Homo sapiens: one gene and its partners. The protein of the gene in region 1 interacts with the protein of each later gene in a pairwise test. Each region holds a gene or a part of one and is shown on either strand. Other genes may lie near its edges. The genes, in order: UBE2J1, ELOVL4, LAPTM5, GOLT1A, TLCD4, TMEM51 and CDS1.

Region 1 (3,500 bases):
ATACTGTCCTTGAGATCACATATAACAAACCTATTTTAAGGCTGTGAAAAAAGTCCTTTAACAAGATCAAATTATCTGTTAGCAGAAATATATATAAAGCAGTAAAGAAACTAATTAAACATAGAATTTACAGATATTTCTAGGGAAAAAAAAACCCCTCACAAATAGCAGTATAACTTGAAAGACTTGGGAGAACTTGCAGAAAATCCAAAGACTTAATTTATTGCTGATTATACATTAGGTAGAGACTCAGGATATGTCTGTTAACTAGATTATTTTCTAAAATATATTTGTTTTTCCATTTTTCCCTTTGTATTCCAGATATAGTCAAAACTTCCTTGAAGTTTACAAGAGTCCTCTGAGGATATGAATGACTGAAAGTAAACATGCATCATATATAAAACATATATTGTTACACTGTTAAACTTCCTTCTAAAAAATTGTTTTTCATAGTACTTCTAGTTCTATTAAAAAACCTTAGGTCTTGAAGAACATGCTATTTAAAATTATGAAATATCATATAAACAAAATATATGTAAAAGTAGCAATAATTTAGTTTTTCTGTTTGTTTGTTTGTTTGTTTGAGACAGGGTCTCCTCGTTCTATCACCCAGGCTGGAATGCAGTGGTGCAATCATGGCTTGCTGCAGCCTCAACCTCCCAGACCCCAGTGATCTTCCCACTTCAGCCTCCCAAGTAGCTAGGACCACAGGTGTGTGCCACCACACCCCGCTAATTTTTATTTTATTTTATTTTTTTTTTTTATTTCATTTTATTATTATTTTTTTTTTTGTAGAGACAGTGTCTCCCTGTGTTATCCAGATTGGTCCAGAACTCCTAGGCTCAAGCGATCCTCCTGCCTCAGCTTCCCAAAGTCCTGGGATTACAAGCATGAGCCACTGTGCCCAGCCTAATTTAGTATTTATTGATGAGTATTTCTTGTTTTACCAGAAGTGGCACTGTTGACCACACACCTTTGAGAATTGGTTATATACAAATTATTTGCTTCAAAATGTATTCACTTTTAACTGAGTCAGATGAACCTTAAGGGGAGTGTTTATTTTGAATGTATTAGTTTATCCACAATGGTAGCATGCTACCACGGTTGAATGCAAAAATCTTTGTTTTTTTTTTTTGAGACAAGGTCTCAACTCTGTCCCACAGGCTTGAGTGCAGTGGCACAATCATGGCTCACTGCAGTCTCAACCTCCCCAGGTCAAGCAATCCTTCCACCTCAGTCTCTAAGTAGCTGAGACTACAGGCACGTGCCACCACGCCCAGCTAATTTTTGTATTTTTTTGTAGAGCTGCAGTTTCGCCATTTTACCCAGGCTGGTCTCGAACTCCTGAACTCAAGCAATCCACCTGTCTTGGCCTGCCAAAGAGCTGGGATTACAAGTGTGAGCCACCATGCCCGGCCCAAAATCATTTTTTAAAAGGTTTCTATTATAGACTGAGAATCTAGAATATACAGTGAGAAGCCTAGAAGAACAAGAACTCCAGTTCTTTTTTTTTTTTTTTTACCTCGCACATGAAATCAACTGGATAAAGGCATCAAGATAAAAAAACCAACGTAGTAAATCGAATGAAAACAAATACTATGTATTCAAAGTACATAGTGTAATCTATGAAGAGCTGTATAAATAAAGTACATACCCATAGTTTGGAAATAAGGTTTAAAAAGAAAAGTTGCTTATAAGACCAAGAAGTCTACCAAATCTTCCAGATGCTAAAATCTAACTGATTTAGCAAATATCTGTAGAGGGCCTACTCTGGGGTGTGCTAGGGTAAAATATGATATAATTTAATTAACATAATATGTCTGAAGGGTGGTAGGCAGCAGACTCCAGAGCAGAAAAATTATCAACATCAAAAATTAGGTATCAGCACTACTCAAAGAGGGGCTACTCTGAATGGAAGGACTGATCTTGGTCATATAGACAAAAGTGCACCTGCACCTGAAAAAAACAGAGAAGGCATCACTTCTCTGTTTGTGATTGCCACTGGGCAATCACAACTTGATAAAATCTCTTTTGCTTTATTCCAGATCATTTATTAAGCACTTGCTATGAGCTAGATGCAAAGATGGATAAAGTGGATTACCTCTTGGCCCTCAAGAGGTTTGTAATCTTGTGGAAAGCTACAAATAATTGCTCTGGTTCTTTTCCATCTATAATGCCATAGTGGAAACAAATGACTGGTATTGTTTTCCAGGAGAATATATCTCCCACTGAATTTTTTAAAAATAGTGAAATAGTATCAACTACTTTTTAAGACTAGATAGCATTAAATAAATTACTTAGATTCTGGTCACTCCAAGGAAATTATTACAACTGAATTCCTAAAAGAGCAAAACTGAGATAAGATCCTGTAGCTACAGTCACTCAGAAAATAAGTCACATAGTAAGAGGTAGGCCCTACCTCCTAATAGCCATTACCCTGAATACTATTCAGACCTCAAGAAGAATGAAATGCAAAACTTACTTTTTGGCAAGTGCTCTTCTTTCCTCAGGAGTGTAATCTAGAGAACCTATGGCTCCCTCTCCTTTTGTTGGCATAAACCCAATGATGGCTAATAATGCTGTCCTTACTGAAATAAAAAAGTAAATATCAATCTAAATTGCTTTGTAAAAGCAACTGGGTTTATTCTGGAAAAAGAAAAAATCAGAGTATTATACTTCATAACTATGAATTGACTGAAGTTATGAGATTTATATTCACTATAAATTAACACTTACTACTCCACGAAGGCTGCCAAGTTTCAGGATGATGGCCTGAGATGCTCAAACAGATTTTCTTGCCCACTTCAAATCGACCATTAGCCTGAGGAATAAACAATGCATTTAGAAAATTAAATACATGTGCTTAATGTTTATACTTTCTGTAAAAATATACTATTTATATATAATAATTTTAGAGATTATCTTAAAAAGTTTGTTTTTTTTTTTTTTTTTTTTTTTTTTGAGATGGAGTCTCGCTCTGTCACCCAGGCTGGAGTGCAGTGGTGTGATATCAGCTCACTGCAAGATCCACCTCCCGGGTTCACGCCATTCTCCTGCCTCAGCCTCCCAAGTAGCTGGAACTACAGGCGCCTGCCACCAGGCCTGGCTAATGTTTTGTATTTTTAGTAGAGACGGGGTTTCACCGTGTTAGCCAGGATGGTCTCGATATCCTGACCTTGTGATCTGCCCACCTTGGCCTCCCAAAGTGCTGGGATTACAGGCATGAGCCACCGCGCCCGGCCAAAAAGATTTTTTTTTAAATGTAACCTCTCATGGGACACAGATTTTTTGTCCTTATAGACTCCAAAAATACTTGTTGGATGCTGAATAATAAAAGCTGTTTTTAGAAGGTGTTTTACAGCACCTTTTGAAACTGAGTTGCACAAGTGAAATCTAAATAATTAACATGTAAAGTTTTACTGGCCAGCGAAGTGGCTCACGCCTGTAATCCTAGCACTCTGGGAGACTGAGGCAGGAGGATCACTTGAGGCCAGGAGTTC
Region 2 (3,500 bases), 9.4 Mb from region 1:
GGCAATAGTTATCAGAAGAAAATTTTTCATAGCCAATACATCTGAGTAGTCTCTCATTTTCTCTCAGTCACCTTCTAGGTTTTATTTCCTCCTTAGTCATTTGTTTACATGGCTGCTGTCTGCCTTCTCACCCTCACTAAAATGCCAGCCCCACAAAGGCAGGGCTTTTCACCCCTGTCCCCAGTACCAACATATAGTAGATGCTCAATACATATTTAATGAATAAATAAAACCAACATGACAACCAAGACAGGTGATTTTTCATCAGTCCATAAGTCTTCTAATAGGGAAATGAAGATACGTACATAAAATTGTTAAGTACATTAAACCAATTTTGTCTCCAGTCTTGATGAATACTGATATTTATATATTGTCCACTCCCCATGCCAGGAAACTATTTTTCTCAAGGGAAGCCACTAGATATTATTACTACATATACTATAGGTAACATAAAACATGTTATGTTTTATATGTAATTTCTAGTATGAACCACAGTATATAAGAAGAGTTCAATAAATACGTAATAGAATAAGGTAATCTGTTGTTTCTTTTGCTTAATGTTAATTTTACTCATGTAAGTGAATGGAAAATAAAATATAACATCTTGTTACTAGTGTTTTATTTTTCTGCAAATATAAAAAAACTGAGTTTATGCCAATACAAATTGTTCTATGCCTAATTTCCTAAATATTCCACACTTCACAAAACATTTACTTTTCCTCACTTTCTTAACACATAACTTGGACTCTAAGAGTTTCTACTCTTGAGCAAAAACAAACAAACAAAAATCTAAAATAATGTCTTTAAAATAAACATGAGACTTCTTTGCTTTAACAAGTACTGCATTCTAGTAATTCAATGCATATTCACTCATGCTGCAAAATAAAAAACATTTTTGAGATACAAAAACAAATTTTAAATTAAGTACTTTTTAAAAAAGCATAGTTTTACTGACTCATAACAATCTAGTATAATTTCACTATCATATTAAAGTACATTTTGCCAGGTGTGGTGGCTCACACCTGTAATCTCAGCACTTTGGGAGGCTGAGGCAAGAGGATCCCTTGCGGCTGGGAGTTCAAGACCAGACTGGGCAACATAGCAAGACCCTGTCTCTACAAAAAGTAAAAAAATATCTAGGCATGGTGGGGTACACCCGTAGTCCCAGCTACTTGGGAGGCTGAGGCAGAAGGATCAATTGAGCCCAGGAGTTTGAGGCTGCAGTGAGCTATGATCATACCACTGCACTTCAGTCTGGGGGACAGAGCAAGAAACTGTCTCTAAATGAATGTTAAAGAAACTGTCTCTTAAAAAAAAGTACATTCTATATTTTCACAGACTGGGGCCTATAAAAATCAAACCACTTTTACTGATTAAGAGTATTTTTAATGTACTTACCCTGACTTCATGAACATTATTAGAATAATCCACACTCTGGCAAATATAGCTATATCCCGCATTATATGATCCCATGAATAACTGGAAAAAGAGTAATAATATTTGTAGTAAAGTTTTAGTAAACACAGCATTAAAAACACAATTATATACAAAATGTAGCCTTTCAAATTATTTTAAACACAATATTTTCTTTAAAAATTTCAAATGCATTAAAAATTTCATGCATTCCGATTGCTAGAAGTTACTGTGCATTAATTTGTTCTATAATTAAAATCTAAATTAAAAATCACATGTAAATTTTATACTGAACATTGACTCTATCTATTAAATACTTCACAGTATTAAGAGAAATTTTTATTGCTAGGACTCAGATTTCAAAGTTGTCCTACCTTAACTGGTTTCTATGTTTGATCCAGAGTGGTTTGCATCTAACAAATTAGGTACAGGTATCCAAATAAATTAAAGTGTTCATGAAGTTGAGACTCGAGGCTAAGTTTTCAAGTAAAGAAATATTTCTTTTTCTAAGAAGAGTTATTGTTTATTTTCCTAGCATTACTAGTCAGTTCTCTGGCTTCATACAGAATTTTAATGAGTCTCTTAGGAAACAAATTCTTTATACATATGCAATTTAAAAAATGGCTGTGTCAATCTAGCCTTTAGGATTTCCTTTGAAAATGTTGTGGAGAATTTGCTAGTGCCCAGAAAAGTATATAATGATTAGTAACAACAGCTATATGGCAGTTAATTCATTTTAATTCCAGCCCAAAATACAACATTATGTAATAGGATTTACTTGAAATTGGCATATTTTGATCAGTTACCAAACCAGAAACTACTGAATAAGAATTATAAATAAATAGCTGCTACTGTTTACTGAGTGCTTAATACGTGCCAAACACTATGCAAAAATTATCTTACTTTACTCCGATAATAACCTGAGATGGTAGGTATTTAAGTGGGGAAAACGAGGCTAAGAAAAGTTAAATAACTTTCAATGCCAGAACAGCTAATAAGGGTTACTTTAGAATCCAGTTGGTCTTATTCAAAATTCCACTTTAAACAACTTTCCTATACCTCATGTTTAATATTTTTGTTATTCAAAAGTGAAAAATGTCAAAAATGTACTTTTAGAGTAGCTAACAGTTATGTCTGGGTAAAATATTACAATGATGGTTTTACACATTCTCATTTTTAAATTTCCAATAACCTTGGAAAATTATTAAAGTGATCTTAAAAACATACCTCTCTGAAGATAAAGAGGTTAAGCAAAACCATCCCAAAATTATAGATAATGAGCACTAGACGCATCTGAAAAGGTTCTCGGTCCTTCATCCATTTTGGACCCAGCCACACAAACAGGAGATAAAGAGTGCTTATACTTAGTGTAGGCCAAGGAGACTGCATCAGAGGCCAATTTTCCACACGCTTATCTATAGAGAGAACAAAATACCATAAAATTCATTAATCAGTAAATGTTTTATAAAATACACTTTTTAGGAATCAAGATGTTTCAACTTAATTTCCTAATTTGACTAAATACGGATCACTGTCCTTTGAGTCCCAACAAAAAATACATGGTATAAAAACCAAAGAAACAATACTGACTCCTGCAAGTGGCTTTTGAAAATTATGCTTCATTACTTATGTCACACATTATGTTTTACAGAGACCCTACAGAACAAAAACAAGAAATAAAGCGCACTAAAAACAGAGGTGGTTATCTTGGGATGAAAAGTTAATGAAAAACTTCATACACAGAAAATAAATATGTTAAGGAAACATTTGTCTTCCATATTATACACGTGAAATTTATCAGGGCAGCTTGGAGGCTGCTCTGTGTGTCCACTCCTAAAGCAGGCAAGAATGTAACTGGAGAGGTACGTACGGGGCGATGGTAGCCATTTGCTGAAATATCTCGAGACACTGAAGACAAGAGTACAGGGGCACTGAGAGATTAAGTTAGGGTTAATTACAATTCTATAATGTAAACAGTCACCATATTCAAGACATTTTTCTAACTTTTTCATTGAGAACATGCACCTATTTTATTCCCATGAATAACTAACTTGAATGTTTTTCTCTAGAGCTGTAAATCGCATAAC
Region 3 (3,500 bases), on another chromosome or scaffold:
CCCCAGGCAGCATGGGTTCCAAGACAGAGTGAGTGTTAGCAAGGGGAGTGGGTGCTGGCATTTGAGGCAGGGTGGACGCATTCCAAACCAGCACCAAATCATCGCCCCACTCCTCCGGCCCTGCAAGGGCCAGGCCCCTGTCTGCACAGGAAGGACCCTCTTTCTGGATCCTACTCCCATGGCTATGTGGTGAGGCCCTGGCTTCCTGCCTTTCTGGGGACCCAGGGACCGCGGGTTCCTCTTCTGCAGGGGATTGAGCTACAGCCCATCTCAACTCTCCCACCAGATTTGCCTCGGGCCCAGGAGCCCCTCGTTGTCACACTAGACTGTCCCTGTCTCTCTGAAGGCCCATCTTCCCCAATCAGATCATGAGCTCTCTGGGGGCCTTCCAGGGCGTAGGTCCCCCTCAGGGTGCTGGCTCCTGTCACTGCATGGATAGAGCTGCATGCATCCTACTTTCCCCCTTCTTCGGCTCCTCTCATCCATTACAAAATCCAGTGCTTTCTCCCGTCTCTCACCCCCAGAAACAACACTTCCTCTTTTCACTCTCAAAATTCCCTGCTTCCACCTGCCGTTTAAAAGGATGTGAGTCATCAGCTAGTTCTCACCAAAGTGTCGGTGACCAGCATAGCCCACCATGCCCGGCCCCGTGGAGGCTCATGTTACCAGGGAACTGAGGTCACCTGCCCAGGGAATCTCAGGGAGAAACATGGTTCTCCAAAAGGTATGTGTGAAGATCTCCAGAACGCAGGTGGGACCGCCTAACATACCCGCCTCCCACCCTCTCAGCACCCAGCACTGCCCACCACCAGTGGGTGTGAATAACAGGAAGGGGCAGGGGGCAGCGGGGCTCCTGAGCCCTCACCTTGACTACGCCGATCAGTAGGCTCAGGCTGATGATGAAGAGCATGGTGATGAGCAGGAAGCTGGAGATCAGGTCAGCTGAAAGGCAAGGAGAGCAGGGAGGTGCTCAGGGGTGCCCCTGGGACCCCAGCCAGGCTCCCAGGACCACACTTGGGGAACCACTGGTTTGGGGACATGAGGATGCACAGGAAAGCCCAGGCCCTGCCCTCTTGCAGTCCTGAGTCTGGAGTGAGTACAAAGACAAAAGCAGAACATCACACATAGCACAGGAGGATGCGACAGAGGGTGCTGGGCTGGAGGTGCAGGCTGGGGTCCACTTCAGCCAGGGTGAGGCTGAGGAAGGCATCCCTGGGGAGTGGCCTGAGAGCAATGAGGAATCGGCCTGAGACAGGGACAGGGTTGGTGAGGTCAGTGTGGCTGGAGCAAGGTGTGGGGTGGAGAATCGCAGGGAGATGCTGTCAGAGAGGTGGGCAGAGGCTGGATCCTATGGTGAGGAGTTTCCATTTTATTCTAGTGTGATGAGCAGCCACTGACGGCTTTAAGCAGAAGAGTGAGGCTATCACCTTTACCAGCTGGTGGGGATTTGCAAAGTGCCATTCCATCTGCTCTCACCACCTGCAGATGTGGGTGGGGTCAGGTGGAACATCCCCATTTGCGGATGAAACAGCTGAGGCCCCAAGAAAGGAAGACACTTGCCAGAGGTCATCCATCGTCCATGGAGAGGTGGCAGTGCCTCCAACACTAGCCTGGCTATCCCTGGCCAGGGCCCTCCCTGTCCTCCTCCCCCCGCCACTCCACCGGCGTCCCCTGGACCTACCGATCCTGAGGTAGCCCATCTGGGAGAGCTTGCAGGACGCCTTGCCATGGGCCACCTCTACTGAGTGCTCGATGAACAACAAGACGCTCATGATCTGGAGGCAAAGCAAAGCATCAGTCAGCTGAGCCTGCATCACGGCCCCCCGACCAGCCCCTCCCACCTTAGTGGTGTACAGCAGGGAAGCCAGTAGTGGGGATCCTGGAGCAGATGGCATGCCAGGTCAGTAGGGCATCTCAGACAAAAGAGTGGCCTTTACACACAGAGAGCCCATGTTCAGAATCCTGGGTCTTCCTCTCTCCAGCTATGTGACCCTGGGCAAGCTACTTGACTTCTATGTGCCTCGGTTTTCCCATCTGCAAGATGGGGATAATACTAGTAACTTCCTTAGGAGGCTACTGTGAGGAGTAAATGAGACTATCCCAGGAGAGCCCTTAGGCCCAGTTCTCAGGAAGAGTGGTAACTGTTACTACTGAAGGTCAGGCTTAAAGAGGTGGGGTGGGGGGTAGAAGCTGAAGGCCCCTCCACTGCATCCCCTTCTGTAACAACAAGCTCTGGGGATCAGAGAGCACCATAGAGCTTCAGGTTCCCGGAATCATCAACACAGGCCCAGGAGGGCCCTGGAGAGCATCTAACCCTGAATCTCTGTCTCCCATGGCCCCTCAGGGAACAATAACATCTTCCTCATAGGATTGTGGTGGGGCCAGATGGGATAATTCACTTAAAGTACCTGGCAGATAGTAAGCACTCAATCTGTGCTGTTATCCATTATCCCCATTCGACTGTAGGTTCCAGGCAGGGAAAGCCTGTATGTCTCTTTGTTCATTCCCCTAGCTGTTGTATTTGTTGAATGAATGAATGAATGAATGAATGAACAAATGAACCCCACACTCTCAGATGACCCTTGCTAAGAATGATGTGGAAGGGGCGAATCTGATAGGCCTGAGTGTTGGGGTGGCCCTAGAAACAACTGAAGTTCAGCCACAAAACTGCAGTTTTAAAGAACCTTGGAGGTCACCTTATCCATGCCTCCCATAAACCTGTGCCATGCAGCCTCTACTTAAGTGCTTCCAGCCATGGGGAACTCACAACCTTATGTGTGTCCATGTCCTCACAGCAAGCCCTCCACCCTTCCCCTATGACATACATACAGTTCTCCAGGTAACCTCTGCCCATATAAAGAACAAGAAAACTGTCCCCTCCCCTCTAGTCGGTGCCCTATCTCTATTAATATGGCCCTAAGTTTACATCGGCTTTCTAGGCAGCCCTGCACTGGTAACTCATGCTCAGCTGACAGGCAACCAGCCACCCACCATCTGTTTCCCCCTTGCTGACTGTGTGGGTTTTTTTTTTTTTTTTTTTTTTAGCTCAGACACAGGTCTCAACTTGTCTTCCTGCCACATTACATCCTGTTTAGGGGCGTGGAAAGGGACTGAACGGAAGAGTGATGAAGAGCTGGGCTCCAGAATCAGATCAAGAGGATTTTGAATCCAGGTCACTGTGTGACCTTGGGCAAGTCTCTTAACCTCTCTGAGTTTCCTCATCTGGAAAATTGCAATCACTGGATTTAGTGAAGATTAAATTGCATTATATTTGCAAAGCACTGAGCTCAGGGACTGGCAGGGGGTGCCCAGCAAACAGAATCTGCTTTTGGCTGGGGCAAGCTTACGTGGTTCGGCAGTAGTACCAGGAGCACGGTGCATGCTCTAACTGCCCCCTCTACCTGCTAAAGAGTGAGCTGGAAAGGCTTTGTCTCATCAGGAAAGTTGAGAACACCCCAAAAAGAAGGCAGGTGTGGTGAGGGCTGTGGCTGACACTCACA
Region 4 (3,163 bases), on another chromosome or scaffold:
ATCATTCTTCCAGGGTCCATTGTCCCAATCCCACCCCTATTCTCTCCACACCACCGTGTAGACATATGAAGTCTTCCTTCCCACCCCCACTTTCTCTGAGACTCCTTCCTTCCTTTTCCTTCAGTGCCCTCCAGTCTTCTCTTAGACCCTACCCATCCCTCAAGGCTTCTCTCAAGTCCTGCTTCCTCTATGACACTACCCTGGGCTCCCCTCTAAGTGCCTACAGGCCTGACAGTGGCCACACATCATGGCTGAGTTCCACCCTGCCTTTTCCCAGGCCCAGGGCTGACACAGGCCTGGCCAGGGGATGACACAGGGGTCAGGAGCCAGAGCTCCCTGGGTTAAGGGCGACCTTTTTCACATACTAGTTTGAGACTTTGGGCCGGGGGCAACTTCTCTGAGTGTTGGTTTCCTTATCTATGAAGTAGAGGATAATCCTATAGTGGGTTGTTGTGATAAAATAAGATGATGATCATGAGTGTGCCTGGAACATGTTAGCTCACTGCCCTTCCTCTCCGGCTGGATCACTGAGATTTGAGGGCAGGCCTCGTGTCTCTTCCCTGCTCACAGGCACAGTGCTGGGGGCACAGTGCTGGGAACACAGTCGGCACTCTATCAGTATTTGTTGATGGATGGGCTAATCCCTCCAAAGTACCCTTCAGCCTACTTTAGGGGGCCTTTCCAAGGTGTCCATGGTTCTCATCTCTTGCAGGATAAAGTCCCAGCTTCTGCACTCCCTGCTGGGGTGATCTCAGCCACTCAGACACTTTGGTGGGTCTGTCCAGGGTTATAGGGATTTGCACTCACTTAAAGAGGCTGAAGAATCCGTAGGTTTCCAGGAACATGCCGAGGAGGGGCCAGCGTAGGAGCACGATAACCACACCCCCCAGGAGGAAGCTGGTTCCCTTGAGTTTGTGCCGTTGGAAGAAGAACCAAAAGGTCTTCCTCAGGCCAATGATGAGGGACAGGCCCGTCAGGAACAGCAGCTGTAGGGGAGGGAGGGGAGCATGAAGCAAACCCACCAGCCCCCTGAGGAGTGAGGGACTTAGGCCTGGAGCCAGGCGGTGGGCTGGGACAGGATGTGCTAACTGTTCAAGACCATCTGAGCGAGGGCCATCCAGCAGTGTGGCAGAATCCCAGAGCCTTGATAAGTCTTGCTGGCTGGGAACAGGACTGCGCAGAGGCAGGGGGATGGATGAGAAACCTTTGACGGTTTCTAGTTGCCTACCCAATTCCCTGGAGCCCAAGCATTTTTCATATGGGACTTGGTTTCTCACCATACCATCTGGGGAAGATGGAATCGGGAGGGATTTTTATTCCAAAGAAGTGAAGATTGAGGCCTAAGTAGGTTAGGCAGCCATACTGAAAGTCACACAGAACCTTCAGAGGCTCCACTGCCTACAGAATAACCCTCCAGTCCCTCCCCTGGATGCCCTATCACCGTCTTCAGCTTGGCTCCTAATGAATCCCTTAAGAGTGCCCAGGCTCTCATCAAATTGAACTCTCTGGTTTTCTTCCAGCATATCCCATGCTTCCCTGCTCCTTCCCCACACCTTTTCTCCTGCTGTTCCAATCCCCCTGGAAGTGCTTTATTCACCTCCACACCCATTTCCTTTCCAAATTCCTCTCCACCATTCTCCAATTCAGTGTGCCCTCTTTCCACTAAGCCCCTTGTTTCATACTAAATGTGTTTACCATGGCCCCTGCCTTCCTCCCAGCCATGTATGTCATGTTATATCTCTAGCCCTAGAGTGGGATTCAGATGGCAGGGACAGTGTCTGAGTCCTCTTAGAACCCCCAGGGTCTCGCCCAGAGCTCGGTGTGAGAATCCAGGTCCTCAGATTCTTGGTGCCAGCGGGCTCTGCGTCCATTTCCTGTGCCCTCCTCTGCCCAGGCTTGATGATGTCTGACCCCTGGATAGGCATGGTCTGAATAAACTTGGGATTTACTTAAGGGATTTATTTAAAGACTTAAATAAACTGTAAGTCTTTATTGCCAGGACTATCCTGGCAATAGAGACTTCAGAAAGGTTGGGGCAGGGGAGTGGGGACACAGGGCTGGGAGACTCACGTTTCCAAAGGCCAGGAGCACGGAATCAAAGTACAGGAGTGTTCCAAAGAGGATGAAGAAGATGCCGAAACCGGTGATCCCCACACCAATCTCTGCAATGGGCAAGGAGGTGGTGGAGGAAAGGGCTTTGGGGAGCAGGTGGGGACCCTGAAACTTCCCCCATTGCCACAGGACAGGTGCCCTCTATGGGGGTGACTCCACTTCCATCCAGGAATCTCAGCTTTCATGCTCTCAGGGGATGGTGGGATGGGAAGGGGAAGGTAGGATGGCATGAAGCTTTGTCTGGCACCTGGGAACTGTGCTGTCACTTCTGTACACAGTGGCATGCTGTCCTCACTGCAGCCCTGTGTGGAAGCTGGTGCTGCCCTGACCACTTTATACTCTCAGCCTCCTCTTGTCCTCAAAAGCCACATTATCCACATCAGTATCAAGGCTGAACATAGCATCTGCTGCCTCTGCTCCTGCCTTGTGCAACTGAGAACCACTGGAGCCCAGCCCACACTGCGCAGAAGGGAGCCACTGAAAACTCAGGACCACCAGCTCCAAAGAGCCTCAGAACCACCCAGCTCTCCTGGTCCTTACTCAAGAGGCTGGCCCGCCTGAGCAACTCTCCACACTGCCTCCTTCCTCCTCAGAATTGCCCTGTCTCCACTCTCAGGTGGTGACATTTCCCACTGGATTGGGAAAACAGAAGTCATCAGTTAGGAATGCATTCCTCTTCTCAGCTGGGACCTATATCCAAGACCCAAGCCTGCACCTGCTCCCATTGTCCTCCCTCCCTCCTGCAGCAGGCACCTTGCGGGCCCCCCACACACTCTTCGGCCAACTCTCATTTCAGCCCAGTGGCTTTGGGCAGTTCTGCCGAGGTTGGACCCACACTGACAATGAGCCCCCATTCCCAAGGTTTGACAGTGAGCCCCCATTCCCAAGGTTTGACAGTAAGCCCCCATTCCCAAGGTTTGTAAGTGTCTCAGGGCATTCTTTGAAGCTGCAGGAGTTCACTCAGAGCCAGCAAGCGTAGCCTAGAAGTGCAGGACATGAAGGCCCCCTCGTTTGGTCAAGGGCTACATTTTTGACATTTTGATAAACATAT
Region 5 (3,500 bases), on another chromosome or scaffold:
GCTTTCCTACCCCCCTCTAGTTAACCAGTACATATTTAAGCACCTATGATGTGGACAGCACTAAATTTAGCAACAAATTATCAGTGTAATATTAGCTGCTTTAAAAATAACTATTATTTTACATTAATTCTTTCAAAAATAAATGTACCTAGTATAAGCCAATCAATCTCATTTTATCATTTAGTTACTGACTGAGATTTCAATCTTCTTTAAATGTTCTAAAACTTATCAGGCTCTATCTGCATTGAATAATAAAAGCAAATCAAATCAAAAGTCTTGATTATATTCAGCTAGCATGAACAATGAAAGTGAGTCAAACGTTCTCCTTCAAACTGAGAAACTGGATTACATCTTTTGGTATGAGTTCAATTAATTTCAAGTATTCATCACTGGTAGAATTAAATTTCTTCCTTTCTCAGGTAAGAATAATCATTAAACTCAAGTGCTTAAAGAATAAAGGCAATAATAGATAAATATATAATTCTATATTTGGATTGCAAGAATTAAAGTAAAAGCAAAACACATACACACACAACCAGAGTCGCCAGTCATTTATCTTCATATAATCAGACAATAATTTTGATGATAGAATACTTGGATTAAATTACCTTTTTTTTTCTGTGCTTTAAGATAGAAATTCAAAGCACTAAAATGCCAACTAAGTAAGCACGGGTATGAATTGTGAGTAAAATATGAATACTGATATTTTTGTAATAGTTTGGGTCTCATCAAGAAGAGGCCTATTTCAGGAGCATAATAAATACATATTGCATAAGACTTTGGTACTGATGGTGCTGGGTTCAGAACTCAGGGAAGATTTTGCAAACAGAAAATATTTTTCACAGAAAAAGTGCAAGGAAAGCAGATAGGGATAAACAGTGTTAAAACTTTCTTTCTTAATGATTCCTCCGATTAGCCTAAATAGTCCTCTATCAACATGCATTTTTAGAAGAAGAAACTCATCTCTTAAGGAGGTCTATAATCTGTCTTAAGCCTTATTATAAAATAAAAAAGCAATAATTTGATAAAATGCTAAAATAGAAATGACAGTGATATTTGAAAAAATCTTAAAATGTGGGAAGTATTCTCCATGACTAAACTAATTAAATATTCCCAAAGTGGTAAAATATTTCATCATTAATAGGTGATTGCATGTCTGAAATGAAAAATGTTGTTACTTCTGAATAGCCTGAGAAAAAGAACATGCCAACAATTTAGAAATTAAACCCTACACAAGTGTTGACAGCCATAGTAAGAAAAGAGTGCATACAACAAATGTTAAGAGCTATTTACAGATTTAAAAGCAGTTCCCATTCTTGCAGCAAAATTGGTGACATAAAACCATTTGTACCAGATTATCATAGTCATCTTTCACAGAGAAAAAATACCAATGCAGTTAAGAGATTTCTCAAAAGATTCACCATTATATTGATCATTTTTATTTAAACCTTTAAGATTTTTATCCATGCTTGTAAATAAGGCAAAAGAAAGGCAGAAAAGACATCTTGGGATGAAAACTAAATTTTAATTTTAGTTTCTCTCTTTTTTTTTTTTTTGAGACAGAGTCTTGCTCTGTCGCCCAGGCTGGAGTGCAGTGGCACAATATCAGCTCACTGCAACCTCCGTCTCTCGGGTTCAAGCGATTCTCCTGCCTCAGCCTCCCGAGTAGCTGGGATTACAGGCGCCAACCACCACGCCCAGCTACTTTTTTTTGTATTTTTAGTAGAGATGAGGTTTCACCATGTTGGCCAAGCTAGTCTCGAACTCCTGACCTCAGTGATCGACCCACCTTGGCCTCCCAAAGTGCTGGGATTACAGGCATGAGCCACCGTGCCCGGCCTTCTCTTTTCTAAGGTTTAAAAAAAATGACACTGAAATCCTGAATAACAATTATAATTAAGAAAGGTACACAAGAACATGCCAAGAATTCATCCTATCAGCAGATATGCTGGGTAGTAATGAAGTTTGCTTATCGGTAGCACTCTTTTAATCAAGTTTTCCATTCTGAAGACTATTTTTGGCTTTCTCTTGTCTGATGTGAGAGATGACTTTGATGCAACCTTTTGAAATTTTGATCATCCACATGACATTCATCACATCCAAAACAACACAACTAATGACCCAGGATAACTGGATTAAAACTCCAAGCCTTATGTAGGGTTCTGTTCCATACACGGAATACATGAAGCCATAATGAGGAAGCATTGAGGCAATCCGCACGATGAAGAATACTACTGTCATGAGTATTCCATTGATAACGATAGCTTTAGAAAACTTGGGATACTTCAGAGCTTCAAAGAACCACCTGAAAAATGAATTAAAGAAACATCACATTTATAGTGCATCTCTGAGGATTAACCATTTTTATTTTAGTTTTTAAATTTTAAAATTCAGTGAAGGAGGAGCAAAGGGCCTAGAATAGCATACGCAATGCTGAAAAAGAACAAAGTTGGAGGACTCACACTACCCATTTCCAAGACTTAACTATAAAGCGACAGTAATCAAGTCAGCATGGTGTTAGTGAAAGATCAATAAACCAATGGAAGAGAAAAGAGAGCTCAGAAATAGACCCACACAAATATACTCAACTGATTTGTGACAAAAGCATAAAGGTAATTCAGTGGAGAAAAAAAGTCTTTTCAACAAGGTGTGCAAAATTGTATATCAACATCGAGAAAAATGAAGTTAAGCAGAGATCTCACACCTTACACAAAAATTAACTCAAAATGGATCATAGACCTAAATGTAAAATGCAAAACTATAAAACTTCCATAAGAAAAAAGGAAAAAAACCTGTATGATCTTGCATCTGGTGGTGCTATTTTAGATACAACACCAAAAGTGTCATCCATGGAAGAAAAAGTTAGTTAAGTTGGACTTCGTTAAAATTAAAACTTGCTCTGCGAAAGACACTGTTAAAGAAAAGACAACCACACACTAGGAAAAAATATTTAAAATATACATGTATGGTAAAGTACATGTATACAAAGTACACAAAGAATTCTTAAAAGTCAACAATAAGAAAACAACCCAATTAAAACACTGGTAAAAGAGCATAACAAAAACCTCATCAGAAAATATATATAGATGAAAACTAAGCATATAAAAAGATGTTCACTATTGTCATTAGGAAGTGCAAATTGCAGTGGCTCACGCCTGTAATCCCAGCACTTTGGGAGGCTGAGGCAGGTGGATCACCTGAGGTCAGGGGTTTGAAACCAGCCTGGCCAGCCAGGCGCAGTGGCTCACCCCTGTAATCCCAGCACTTTGGGAGGCTGAGGAGCGTGGATCATCAGGTCAGGAGTTCAAGACCAGCCTGGCCAAGATAGTGAAACCCCGTCTCTACTAAAAATACAAAAATTAGCCAGGCATGGCGGCGGGCACCTGTAATCCCAGCTACTCAGAGGCTGAGGCAGAGAATTGCTTGAACCCAGGAGGCAGAGGTTGCAATGAGCCGAGATCACACCACCACACTCCAGCCTGGGCGACAGAGCAAGATTC
Region 6 (3,500 bases), on another chromosome or scaffold:
TAAAATTATTCCAAAATTAAACAAAAATTTATTTAAAGGGTCGTGGCTAGGACCATCTCTGGACAGATTAAAAACAAAATGGCTTTCTAATTTTGTTGCTATTATTACAAAAAATAACAGTCTCGAAACTAACTCCTTATACTCATTAACTGTTTTCTTAGGATAAACTTCTAGAATTGAAATTATGGTGTTTTCTAAAGCCTCTGGGCAGTCTAGAAAGAAAAGCAGAAAGAACAGGAAGGAAAAAAGCCGCCAAAGTTCCTGGCTTTGAGCAGGGGTACGAGGTAGGTGGGGGTGGAAAGTAGTTCCTTGTGACTGATGCAGTTGAAGTTGGGGTAAGGCAGCAGTAATAGGTCTGAAAAGATTAACAGAGGCTGACTCTAAGAAGTCCGGGCTTTATAGTGTTGAAAGTTAAAGAGCTTAGCTTTGGCTTGATCCTGCCAGCATAGGGAAGGGGCAAAGATTTCAGATCAGTGCATTTGACATGTTATTGATTTGTTATTTTACTTGTTGGTTTCCTACTTGACTGACTCCTCCCTGCTGCCTAATAAGGTGTAAGCTCCAAGAGGGCAGGAACTGAGCCTGTCTTAGGCACCGTTTCCCCCCAAAGCCTGGAAGAACACCTGGTCTGTAGAGAGAACGCAATGATATGGCCAAATGACTATCTGAGTCTTGTTTCCAAAATGACTCCCCCACCCACCAACTTTTTAGTGTGATAAAATGCACATAACATAAAGTTGACTATCTTAACCATTTTTCCATGAACAGTTCAGTGGCATTAAGTACATTCATACTGCTGTGCAACCATCACCATCATGCATTCACAGAACGCTTTCATTTTACAAAACTGAAACCCCTTACCCATTAAACCCTAACTCCCCATTCCTCTTCCCCCAGCCCCTGGCAACCAACATTCTACTTTCCATTTCTATGATGTCTAGATTCCTCATACAAGTAGAATCATATAGTATCTGTCTTTTTGTGACTGGCTTATTTCACTTAGCATGATGTCCTCAAGGTTCGTCCATGTTGCAGCATGGTGTCAGAATTTCCTTCCACATGGAGGCTGAATAATATTCCACTGTATGGATAGACCACATTTTGTTTATTCATTCATCCTTTGATGGATACTTGGGTTGTTTTCATATTTTAGCTATTATGAGTAATGCTCATATAAACATGGGTGTACAAATATCTCTTCAAAAACCTGTTTTCAATTCTTTTGAGCATTGATATAGTTTGGATATTGGTCCTCTCCAAATCTCATGTTGAAATTTGATCCCCAGGCTGGATGCGGTGGCCATGCCTGTAATCCCAGCAATTTGGGAGGCCGAGGCATGTGGATCACTCGAGGCCAGGAGTTCAAGACCAGCTTGGCCAACATGGTGAAACCCCATCTCTACTAAAAATACAAAAATTAGCTGGACATGGTGGCACATGCCTGTAATCCCAGCTACTTGGGAAGCTGAGGCATGAGAATCGCATGAACCCAGGAGGCAGAGTTTGCAGTGAGCCAAGATTGTGCCACTGCACTCCAGTCTGGGCAACAGAGTAAGACTGTCTCAAAAAAAGAAGAGAAATTTGATCCCCAATGTTGGAGGTGGGGCCTAGTGGGTGTTTGGTTGTTGGGAGTGGATCCCTCTTGAATGGCTTGGTGCCCAAAGATCTGGTTGTTAAAGAGTCTGCTCCCCACTCCTTCTCTCCTCTTCTCTCTCACCACATGACGCCTGCTGTCCTTCTGCCCGAGGCCCTCACTAGAAGCAGATGCTGATGCATCTGAGATGCCATGGGCTAAATAAACCTCTTTCTCTCTTTTTTTGAGATGGAGTCTTGCTCTGTCGCTAGGCTGGAGTGCAGTGGCTCCATCTCGGCTCACTGCAACCTCCGCCTCCCGGGTTCAAGCCATTCTTCTGCCTCAGCCTCCTGAGTAGCTGGGACTACAGGTGCCCGCCACCATGCCTGGCTAATTTTTGTATTTTTAGTAAAGACTGGGTTTCACCATGTTGGCCAGGATGGTCTCGATCTCGTGATCTGCCTGCCTCGGTTTCCCAAAGTGCTGGGATTACCGGCGTGAGCCACTGCGCCCGGCCAATAAATCTCTTTTCTTTATAAATTACCCAATCTCAGGTATTTCTTTACAGCAACACAAATGGACTAAGACAAGTATGCACCCAGAAGTGAAACTGCTGGATCCTATGGTTATTCGATTTTAATTTTTTGAGAAAAATGACTTTTGTTTTTTTGAGATGAGTCTCACTCTGTTGCCCAGGCTGGAGTTCAGTGGCACGATCTCGGCTCACTGCAACCTCTGCTTTCCAGGTTCAAGCGATTCCTGTGGTCAGCCTCCTGAGTAGCTGGGATTACAGGCACCTGCCACCATACCGGGTAATTTTTCTATTTTTAGTAGAGATGGGGTTTCACCATGTTGGCCAGGCTAGTCGTGAACTCCTGACCTCAAGCAATCCACCTGCTTTGGCCTCCCAAAGTGCTGGGATTACAGGTATGAGCCACCATGCCCAGCCCCCAAAATGACTTTTAAGAAGAAACTATATAAAATACTTTTTCCACCTCTGCCTTCAGCATCTGCCCTGAGTGCAGCGTTTCTACACTCAGTATTGGCCTGTGTTAACGAAGCTCTTTTACACCTTGAGGCCTTTGCACAGGCAGTTGCCTCCACCAGGAAGACCTTTGGCGGTGGCGGCTGCACCTGCCCTCCCCGCTCCCCATTTCAGCTCAGACTGCACTCTTTCTGAAAATCCTTCCTGACTCTCCAAGTTTGGGTTAAGCCTCCTCCTTCACGGGCTGTGCTTCCTCATCTTTATTCACATGTTGTTAAGGTACAATCCCTGCTGCCTCCCGTGGGGGATCAGCTCCATCGGGGTGGGGGGCGGGGGCTGACTCTCCCTCGTTCCTGGGCTCAGCGCCTGGCATACCATATGTATCAGGAGATTTGTTTAAAGTGATGGCGCCGGTGTTTAGCTACAGGCAATTTCCCCCAAAAGAAGAGAATTTGCATCTGTCACTGTTTGAAAACAATAATTACCCACAGGCAGTTCCAGTACCTAACTGCTTCTCTCCAAATTGCAGGCAGTTTTAAGGAAGCTGTATGTGAGGCCTCTTATGGTAACTTAAGAAAGTTTGAGTGTTTGTTTTGTTTTTTAAAATCATGTTCTTGCTGGGTGTGGTGGCTCACGCCTGTAATCCTAGCACTTTGAGAGGCTGAGGCAGGTGGATCACTTGAGGTCAGGAGTTCAAGACCAGCTTGGCCAACATGGTGAAACCCTATCTCTATTAAAAATACAAAAATTGGCCGGGCGTGGTGGCATGCACCTGTAATCCCAGCTACTCAGGAGGCTGAGGCAAGAGAATTGCTTGAATCCAGGAGGCAGAGGTTGCAGTGAGCCAAGATTGCACCACTGCACTCCAGCCTGGGCAACAGAGTGACACTCTGTCTCAAAAGAAATAAATAAAATAAAATAAAGTCATTTTCCCTCACCAAA
Region 7 (3,500 bases), on another chromosome or scaffold:
TGCAATGCCCACAGTTGAGAAATCAAATCTCCTCAAGTTTCAAATCCTATACCATCCACATTAATTGGGTCTTCAATGTGGTCCAGGACCATGACAAATACTATCTTTTTTTAAGTTGTTCAAATGTAGGTAAAACAATTACAAGTTAACCATCTTGCTCAAGACTCTAATTCCAGGGGCCACCATTCACTTTAATATTGTAGATTACCATTGACGGAAAAAGTTAACTTACTCAAACTAATGTTGATGGAAATGAGAACTCAAAGAAATCATCTAAAAAATGTCTCAAGTGTAAAAGTACCTTATAAAACTTGTGATGTACACATGTACAAAAGTTGCCATCAAATACTGACAATCAAATCTGTCCATTATCCCACCATGTCCAGGAATGGTATTTGCAAAATCCTTTAGAAACAAACAAATATATTAGCAAATTTTCAAAAAATCACCTGCTATAAAATTCCTATCTGTGTCTCTTTGGCGTCATGGACTCACTCTAACGAAAATACATTACTATTGGATTTTTTTCACTAAATAAAAACTTATTAGAACACATCCAGCAGATTAAAACCACATCTTCCAAATACATGCTTCTTTTAGAATGATTTCTGAATTGACCCACAGCATTCATTCATCAAACGTTAATTAAATCTAGCACTTACTTTTTTTCGTTAATAAAACTTTTTCTAAATAAAAATTATCTTAGCTATTACTAATCTAATTTTGTTACAGCCTAGCTTTCTTTTTAACCACAAGCTGTTTGGGGAGCTATTTTAGTGCTGCTAAAAGATGTACAACTGGTTCTAACTTGTTTATCCTAATAGTTCTTACTCTGAAATAAACATTTTACTACTATGATAAACATTTCTTCTTCTTTTTTTAAGTGTTAGAGTAAAAAATAAAATTACAGTGAGCCCATATGGGACACATTAGTCCATTAAATGGCCACACTGAGGGAATGGTAGTAAGCCTCTGCAAACTGACCCTTTACAGGTAGATTCACATGTCTGGGTGCCCAGGAAATGGACATGACTAACTGCTCTTCTAGTTCACTCAGGCACCCTAAAAATATCTAAACTACAACAGCAATAGCTGTTTGGTTTCCAACATGCAAAAAAAACTCACCATTTAACAAAAAATCTTGGATTGGAGACCATTAAAGAAAATACCATTCTAAATATAACATTTTTCTTTTTAAAATAATTACTGAAAAAGTCTTTGGTTAATTTTTGCCAACCCATTTCTCTCTTTCTCTTCCTTACTAGTCAAAGCATAAAAGAGCCACAGTAACTCAATGCCACTCTGCTATTACAGCCTTCGCAAGATACTTATCCTGCACAGCTGTTGCTGTAGTTCTCTGGGGAAGTGTATTGTCTGCCCTAGTAGGTGGTGAGCATCTTTAGAACAGGAACAACATCTTGTATATTTTTGTATACTGCATTGCACCTTACATAGTAGCTTCCCACTGGCAAATGCTCGCTGAGTTCACTTATTCCCTGACCCCGTAGGCCGCGTGTGATCTGGTCCCACCAAACTCTGCGGTCTCATCTCCTACTCTCAACCACAGCCACACTGTTCTTGCTCACCTTCTAACAGGCTAATTAACCTCTTCCACTCCTCTGTACACTCTGGAACTCTCTTCTTAGTTTTCTCTGGAGGAGTTCTTTTCTCAAATCTCTACTTAAGTGCCACCTCCTCAGAAAGGCTTTCCCTGACCACCCCAACTTCCATAGCCACTTTCTAACCCCAGATGGTGCCTCAGCCATGTGAGGGAAGCTGAGATGAAATTGCTGAGATAACATGTCACTTTATGATGATCTAACCTAATACACAGGGATAATTTTAGGTCTCTGGAACAGGGGTCAGAAAAGTATGTCCCACAGATCAGATCCAGGCCACAACCTATTTTTATAAATAAAGTTTTATTAAATCCAGCCATGCCCATTCATTGACATATTGTCCACGGGGGGCTTTCTCACTGTAACAGCAGGGTTCAGGGTTGAGAAGCTTTGATAGAATATATGGTCTGCACATCCTAATAAATGTATTGTTTGCCCTTTACAGAAAGAGTGTGATGACACCTGACTTAGCAGAATGGACAGTTACATAGCCAAAGGTTCTTCTGCATGTCCCTTCAAGTGAGACTGTAGTAAAACACTAAACTTTAGATGATTCACGGCTGGATTCTTGGGTGAGCACTTGAAAGACCAAGATTCTGGGTCTATTCCAACACTAAAGGACACATGCCATGTCTATAAAGGAAGCTGACATGACACTTAAAATGTATTAACATGGTATGACAAACCTAAAAAGAAAGAATACATTCAGATCAACGTGGCAGCATTTCTGTGGGGTCGAAACAAATAGGATATAAAAGTTGTGGCCTAGGGGCTTAATGTAGATCATGAGCGGACCAAATTCCAACTAGGTTACATTCTCTAATTATATTCTCTAATAATATAACAAAGAATCTAAACACACACCTTGATTTTGAAGGCTCTTTTGAATCCACTAGCAAAGAAGCCTCCAAATGGGCCAATTAAAGATGCAAAGGTTGACAGTGCAATGCTGTGGATCTGGAAAGGGTACAAGCTCACTCTTTCCTAAAGAGGAGAAAGAAGGGGAGGAGAGGGGCTAATTTCACTGAAATTGTATTTGAGCATACCACCTGATCTAAGAACCATTGTGTAAATAGTAAGTCAAAGCACGCACCACATTTTTGTTAATTTTTCAAACTTTAAGGATCAAGGAAGAAAAGTCTATTTAAGCCTTCTGTACCATCCTCTACTTAGCCAGCAATTTCCCTTCTCTCTGTAAGAATAATGACAGGCAACTGGCACACTGAAATCTTGCAGCGTGGTAGTCTACCTTCCAGGTTGTCTAGGAACTTTACTTCTTACAAAGAATCAGCTGTGTTATTTTCCAAATTTTTTTAAACTAGTAATGCTTTGTTGCTGTAATTATATAATTTAATATTGTATTTTATTTCACCTTAATTTTATATGATAAAATAAGGGAAAAGTTGGACTTTTCTCTAAAATTAAGATGAATGCTGTGGAAAAACACAAAAATAAGTTGCTTAAAGATTATTATCAAAATGAGCATCAGTGAGACAATCACTAAAGATTTGGGGAGACAATCATAAAGGCTGAGAAGAATTTTGTAGTCAAATTATTTTGCAAATTTGTAGTTCTTGCTCCTTTTTAAATAATCTGAAACTACAATTTATAGACAGTGCAAAATGCACCCATTTTGGTTGAAGAAAGATGTCTGAGGCACCAATTTTTTTTTTTTTTTTTTGAGGCAGAGTTTCACTCTTGTTGCCCAGGCTAGAGTGCAATGGTGCAATCTCGGCTCACCGCAACCTCCGCCTCCCAGGTTCAAGTGATTCTCCTGCCTCAGCTTCCCAAAGTAGCTGGAATTACAGGTGTATGCCACCACGACTGGCTAATTTTTTATGTTTAGTAGACATGGGTTTCACCTTTTGGTCAGGCTGGTCT

What was found.
Region 2: the proteins of UBE2J1 (region 1) and ELOVL4 interact in binary tests that used the Homo sapiens proteins (3 or more experiments, as listed by UniProt).
Region 3: the proteins of UBE2J1 (region 1) and LAPTM5 interact in binary tests that used the Homo sapiens proteins (3 or more experiments, as listed by UniProt).
Region 4: the proteins of UBE2J1 (region 1) and GOLT1A interact in binary tests that used the Homo sapiens proteins (3 or more experiments, as listed by UniProt).
Region 5: the proteins of UBE2J1 (region 1) and TLCD4 interact in binary tests that used the Homo sapiens proteins (3 or more experiments, as listed by UniProt).
Region 6: the proteins of UBE2J1 (region 1) and TMEM51 interact in binary tests that used the Homo sapiens proteins (3 or more experiments, as listed by UniProt).
Region 7: the proteins of UBE2J1 (region 1) and CDS1 interact in binary tests that used the Homo sapiens proteins (3 or more experiments, as listed by UniProt).

What each region holds. Positions count from the first base shown.
Region 1 is NC_000006.12:89,335,723-89,339,222, forward strand, and holds part of UBE2J1 (ubiquitin-conjugating enzyme E2 J1), read right to left. Parts: intron 2,822-3,500; coding exon 2,737-2,821; intron 2,589-2,736; coding exon 2,483-2,588; intron 1-2,482. UniProt on the Homo sapiens protein: Catalyzes the covalent attachment of ubiquitin to other proteins. Functions in the selective degradation of misfolded membrane proteins from the endoplasmic reticulum (ERAD) and is essential for cells to recover from ER stress.
Region 2 is NC_000006.12:79,923,554-79,927,053, forward strand, and holds part of ELOVL4 (very long chain fatty acid elongase 4), read right to left. Parts: intron 2,829-3,500; coding exon 2,641-2,828; intron 1,480-2,640; coding exon 1,399-1,479; intron 1-1,398. UniProt on the Homo sapiens protein: Catalyzes the first and rate-limiting reaction of the four reactions that constitute the long-chain fatty acids elongation cycle.
Region 3 is NC_000001.11:30,740,775-30,744,274, forward strand, and holds part of LAPTM5 (lysosomal-associated transmembrane protein 5), read right to left. Parts: exon of another isoform or gene 3,016-3,500; intron 1,776-3,015; coding exon 1,682-1,775; intron 943-1,681; coding exon 866-942; intron 1-865. UniProt on the Homo sapiens protein: May have a special functional role during embryogenesis and in adult hematopoietic cells.
Region 4 is NC_000001.11:204,200,826-204,203,988, forward strand, and holds part of GOLT1A (vesicle transport protein GOT1A), read right to left. Parts: intron 2,163-3,163; coding exon 2,071-2,162; intron 987-2,070; coding exon 808-986; intron 1-807. UniProt on the Homo sapiens protein: May be involved in fusion of ER-derived transport vesicles with the Golgi complex.
Region 5 is NC_000001.11:95,190,355-95,193,854, reverse strand, and holds part of TLCD4 (TLC domain-containing protein 4), read right to left. Parts: intron 2,306-3,500; coding exon 1,987-2,305; 3' UTR 1-1,986.
Region 6 is NC_000001.11:15,160,247-15,163,746, reverse strand, and holds part of TMEM51 (transmembrane protein 51), read right to left. Parts: intron 1-3,500.
Region 7 is NC_000004.12:84,642,127-84,645,626, reverse strand, and holds part of CDS1 (phosphatidate cytidylyltransferase 1), read right to left. Parts: intron 2,604-3,500; coding exon 2,484-2,603; intron 406-2,483; coding exon 302-405; intron 1-301. UniProt on the Homo sapiens protein: Catalyzes the conversion of phosphatidic acid (PA) to CDP-diacylglycerol (CDP-DAG), an essential intermediate in the synthesis of phosphatidylglycerol, cardiolipin and phosphatidylinositol.